Regions from separate parts of the Homo sapiens genome. Here region 1 is linked to region 2. A link means that fine-mapping ties the variant in region 2 to the expression of a gene that starts in the linked region. Tissue or cell type: thyroid. Region 2 holds a variant in brackets; the other region holds the start of a gene. All regions are shown on one strand. Distances are between the middles of the regions.

Region 1 (2,500 bases), 220 kb before region 2:
GAACTGTCCCTGAGCGGGGATGAAAGGAGCGCGGGTCCGCTTGCTCCCTGTCCACCCACTCACTGGAGCTCATCCCTTTAGTCTCCCTCCCTGCAGCAAACCTTCCGCCCCTACCCAGGGAGCGCCCTGAGCGCAGATCCAGTCAAGGAGAAACAGACAGGTCACCAGCGGTTACCACCCCTTCCTCCTTAGGCTAGACACGGGGAGCTGGGGGGCCGTTGTCTTCTTTAAGGTCTGGACGGAGTTTCTTCCTGCCCCGGGGAAAAACCAAGGCCCGGCCAGCGCCAGCGCCAGCCCCGGGCCCTGGGAGACCAGGCGTCCTGGTCCCTTCCTTCTGTCTCCGGCTCCCGCCCCCCAAGCAGAAACAGGTCCCTGCACGCCTCCAGCCCAGCCCGCAGCGCGGCGCAGCTCGGCGCAGCTCGGCGCTGGGAGCTCGCTCCGGACTTCTCGGGATTAACCTGCTATTATGTCCCGGAGCCCTTCCCTGCAATGGGCTTCCTCAGCGACCTGTCAGCCCGGCTGGACTGCAACCCGCGTCCGGCGCCCCTCCCGGGCCACCGCCCCGCGCTCGCACCCCTGGCGCCCTCGAGAGCCCCGAGCCGCCTACCGGTGCGGACGCCGCCACAGCCACCCCTGACGCCTCTGGGCAGGGAGCCGGACCCGGGCAGGAGGGGACCCCGGGTGTGCAGAGGGACGTTCGGGCCGTGGCGGCGGCAGCGGAGCGAGCGAGCCTCCGGTCCCGCGGCCGAGACACCTGCCGGGCTGCCCCGCGCCCGCTGCCCCGCGCCGCCTGGCACCGGCCGCTGCCCCCGGGGCCTGCCCCGCCCCGCCCCGCCCCGCTCGGCCCCGGCCAGACTTACAGCCAGTTGCTCGCGGCGGCTGAGAAGACGGCGAAGACGAGGAGGCGCAGCGAACGCAGGCACGAGCGGGGACTCATGGTGCCGCCGCGGGCGCCCGGCCCGGGGCAGCGGCTGCGGCCGCGGGGGGCCTCCCGTCGGGGCTGCAGGTGGGCGCCCGCGGGCGGGCCGGGGCGCGCGCGGCGGGGCTCTGCCTCCGTGTGCCTGCCGGCAGCCTGCCCGCTGCTGCGCCCGCTGCCCGGCGCGGACCAGACTGTCAGCGCCGCCCCAGAGCCGGGATGCGGCGGCGGCGGCGGCGGCGGCGGCGGCGGAGGCGGGCGGGCGGGCGGGCGGCCGGGGGGGCGGGCCGGGGGCGGGCCGAGGATGGGGTTACCTGGGCGGGCCCAGCGGCCCGGGACACCCCCCCGGGGGCGGGCCGGAGCGGCGGCGGCTGCCGCCTTAGCCCGCGGGACTGGGCTGCTCCCGGGGCCTCCCCGGCTGGGCGCTCCGGAGGACTTGGGGCCCGAGCCCGCTCCAGGCACGCCTGGCTGCGCGCCGCCGAGCCCGGCCCGGCTAGAGGCGCGGCGACCCAGCTGCCCGGCCGCCGCCCGGGCCTAGGGGACAGGCGGGCACAGCTCCCCCAACCCGCCGCTGCGGGCACTGCAGCGCGGCCCTCGCTGTCCCCCTACCCCCCCCACCGCCCCCCGCCGGCGCCTGGAGCCCAGACCCCGGTCCGACCGCGGCGGACCCACCGGAGCGCGGCTACCACTCGCGCGCACCCAGGCGCTGGCGCTCCGGGTGCCTGGGGCTGCACATCGGGGCGCTGGATGTCTCCCGACCGCCCCCCGCCCGGCCCCTCCCTGCCTCCTGGCCCCCGCGTCCTGCGGCCCAGCCCCTCCCTGGCGCTCACCTCCCTACAGCCTTCCGGGAGCTGGACGGGGCCTCCCCAGCTTTGGGCAGCTTGGGACAGTGGCCCGAGACTGTGGGAATCCGAAACCTCGCTTCTGGCTAGCCACAAGGTCTGGGCGCGCCCCAGGCAGCAGGGTCTTGACTCTGAGCCTCCGTTTTCTCATCCGGGAAGTGGGCTTAAGACGCTGTGATTGGGAGGACAGGAGGAGTTTAGGGAAGCTCTCTTGGCTCACTCACCAAGTCTTACTTTGCATTTGGTTTTCTATGTGCTTGTTCGATTTATCCTCCCATACTAGGCAGATTCAGCCTCTTGTTTGTTTTGGGCACAGGGCGGTGCCTGCCATGTTTGTGGAAGGAATAAATGAATGGAATGGAATGGGCTGCAACAGCCTGTGCTTGGCTAGTCCAGAGAGCTCAATTCCACATCACTGTAACCCCTAAGAATTGTCTGCCCAAGTCCACGCCACACCCTCTCAGGTCACTGATCTGATTCTGTGTGCTACTCATCCTCCAGGCTGCATCCCCCAGCTGCTCACAGGTAGAGGGACCTCTTATCTAAACAGTAAAACTAAGGCCCGGAAAGGGAGGCACCTGTCCCACCTCCCTAGGGGTTGGGAACAGAGGCAAGGACCAGGTCTATGCCCTCACCCCCTGATCTTAGTTCTTCACTGATTTTGGAGTATGAAGTTTGCTCCCACAGAGGCCATCATGTTTGGGTGCTGGGATGGTGCCCTGGGGTCCCCTGGGCTCAGAAC
Region 2 (2,500 bases):
TCTCCTGAGGCTAAGGCAACAGAAAGGGCCTTTTCAACATCATTTGAAGTGAGGAAGAACAGACACTCTTTCAGCATGGTACAGTAGAAGAGGCTACTTCTCCCAGGGCAAAAGATGCTATCTGCACCTGGCTGGCTGCTGTGAATACTCCAGCCAAATCCCAGACCACCATGAAGGCCTCCCCAGCCACACTCCAGGCCCCATCGTCTGAGGATCAGAATCCACAGGAAAGAGCGGACAGGGTAGATAAAGAAGAGCTGAAAGGGCAGGGCTGGGGGAGATGTCAGGAAGCGAAGGAGTTCAGACAACCAAGAGGAGAAGTCAGGAGGCAGAGAGCCCAGCCGGGCTGTCCTCCAGGACCTGGAGCTGCTGCTGTGCCATCGCTGTGGACCTGTGGACAAGGAGCCAACTGGGGAAGCAGCACTGAAACTACCACACCTGGGCGACTTGGGCCACCTGCTCCTATGTGTGCTCAACCTGGTGACTGCAAGGCCGTTGCGAAGCAGCCCCTCTCCCCCTGTCTTCTACAATAATGGAATCATCATAATAATTGCTAACACACAGGGCACTTGCTGTTTGTCGGGCATGGTCCAGGGATCATCCACATTAACTCATTTACCCCTCACCACAATCCCAAGAGGTAGAGGTAGTTCATGTCTAGATGAGGAAACTAAGGCACAGAGAGGTTAAGTAGCTTGCCCACAGTCACACAGCTACTAAGTAGCAGAACTGAGATAGTCTCAGAGCAGTGCCAGGCTCGCATCCTCTCCCTGCCTCCACCTCTCTTCTCTTTATCACCCCAATGTTTCCACATGTCCCTCCCCATTTCTTCATTCCTTGGCCTGCCCTCTGGCCTGCAAAGAGCGGCAATTTCACTCTACTTAATCCCCGGCCAGGCTTGTCACCCAGAGGCCAGTGTTTAAGCTCTGACGCAGCCCACATCCTCACTGCCAGACCTGACTCCTGTCTGTCTCTCCAGCTCAGCCTTGCCTCACCCCCTACCCTGAGCGCCTGGCTGCTTCTTGCTGCCCCCTTAGCCTGGAATGTCCCTGCCGCACCTACTTGGAGGGCACTTG[A/C]TCTTCTTTCAATGATTGAAGCAAGCAGTTGTGTTTTCAGAGAAGCAAAAAGCTGGGAACTTCTTAAATGTCCAGCAATAGAGATTTATTGAGCAAATGAGGGAAATTCATCATACATTGGAATAGGGAAATTCATCATACATTCAGCAGCCATCAACAAAGATACTGTAGAAAAGTAAGCTCCTGAGATGTGCCGGTCATTGCGCTAGGTACCCTGTCTATATACATCACCTTGCTTCATTTAATCCTCAAGGTTGCTCTGATTATTCAAAGAAGAGTAAGTGTCGTCCAAGCAAGTGGGGCAGGGGCATTCCAGGCTAAGGGAGAAGCTGCCAGGTACTTAGGAAAATGGCCGCTGGTTGGAGTGGGGTGAGGCAAGGCTGAGCTGGAGAGCTGGTCCTGCAGGGGGCTCTGGCCTGCCCTTTGATAGAGGCCTCACTTTTCTCTCCTCATACAGATACAGGAAGTGAGGCTCAGAGAAGATGGTAACTACCTGATCCAAGTGGTTGGACCGATTTTGACCCAGGACTTCACTGTTCATGCTTGGAGCCGCCAAGCTATGCTTACAACATGGAAAAATGTTCATGGCACATTGTATTGCATGAACATCAAAGCAAGTTGCCAAATAATATAGCTGCGTGATCCCAATTTGATTCGCAAAAATGCACGCCCCCCCACACACAGAAAAAAATATCACCATCTCAACTCTATTTCTGAATGGTGGTGGGATTGGAGTTCAGTTTTACTCTACTCCTTCTGTTCATCTGCTTTTCTTCATTTTGCACAGTGAGTAGGCATCACTAATAGGAGACAGTCCTTACCACCCACCACTACCTGCTCTAAACAGACTCCAGGCCCAAGTTCATGCAACTTTTCCGCCCTCAGGAACTTTTCTGCCTGCCCAGGTAGCCCTGTCCCATGTGCCCCACCCACCTGTGCCTCCGCAGACCTGGGTTCTCCCGTCCATCAGAGCCCTGTGATGTTTCAGGACACTCACTGCTGGTGGCCTCTTTCCGTGGCATTGGACTATGGCTTCTCCCAAAGACGCCCCTTCCCCCATGCCTGCCTTTCCTGTCTGACATGGTTTGGCTGTGTTCCCAACCAAATCTCATCTTGAACTGTAGTTTGCATCATCCCCACATGTCATGGGAGGGACCCCCTGGGAGGTAATTGAATCATGGGGGCGGTTACCTCCATGCTGTTCTCGTGGTAGTGAGCGAGTTCTCACGAGATTTGATGGCTTTATAAGGGGCTTTCGCCGGCTTCGCTCTGCACATCTCCTTGCTGCCACCAAGTGAAGGAAGTGTTTGCTTCCCTTTCCGCCATGATTGTAAGTTTCCTGAGGCCTCCCCAGCCCTGCGGAACTGTGATTCAATTAAACCTCTTTCCTTTATAAATTACCCAGTCTCAGATATATCCTTATA

Which allele goes with the higher level. Alleles are on the strand shown, and positions count from the first base shown. SD is a standard deviation of normalised expression in the study named.
For the expression in thyroid of the gene that starts at base 1,112 in region 1, allele C in region 2 goes with a lower level than allele A (moderate effect, 0.43 SD a copy in GTEx).

Evidence for each region. PIP is the estimated chance that this variant, and not a neighbour inherited with it, causes the effect.
Region 1: it holds the start of WNT4, and the variant in region 2 is fine-mapped to the expression of WNT4 in thyroid (GTEx, PIP above 0.99).

The regions. Positions count from the first base shown.
Region 1 is chr1:22,141,986-22,144,485 of GRCh38, forward strand. WNT4 (Wnt family member 4) reads right to left here and starts at 1,112. Exons shown (of 5, transcript NM_030761.5): 1 at 861-1,112. The coding sequence starts at 937. The region is part of intron 1 of LOC105376845 (a long non-coding RNA gene); the gene reads left to right. RefSeq lists silencers at 580-639, 1,202-1,531.
Region 2 is chr1:22,363,489-22,365,988 of GRCh38, forward strand. No RefSeq gene overlaps it. Among named protein-coding and RNA genes, the nearest start is that of ZBTB40, 87 kb to the right of the region's middle. The variant A/C (reference allele first, on the strand shown) is at 1,077.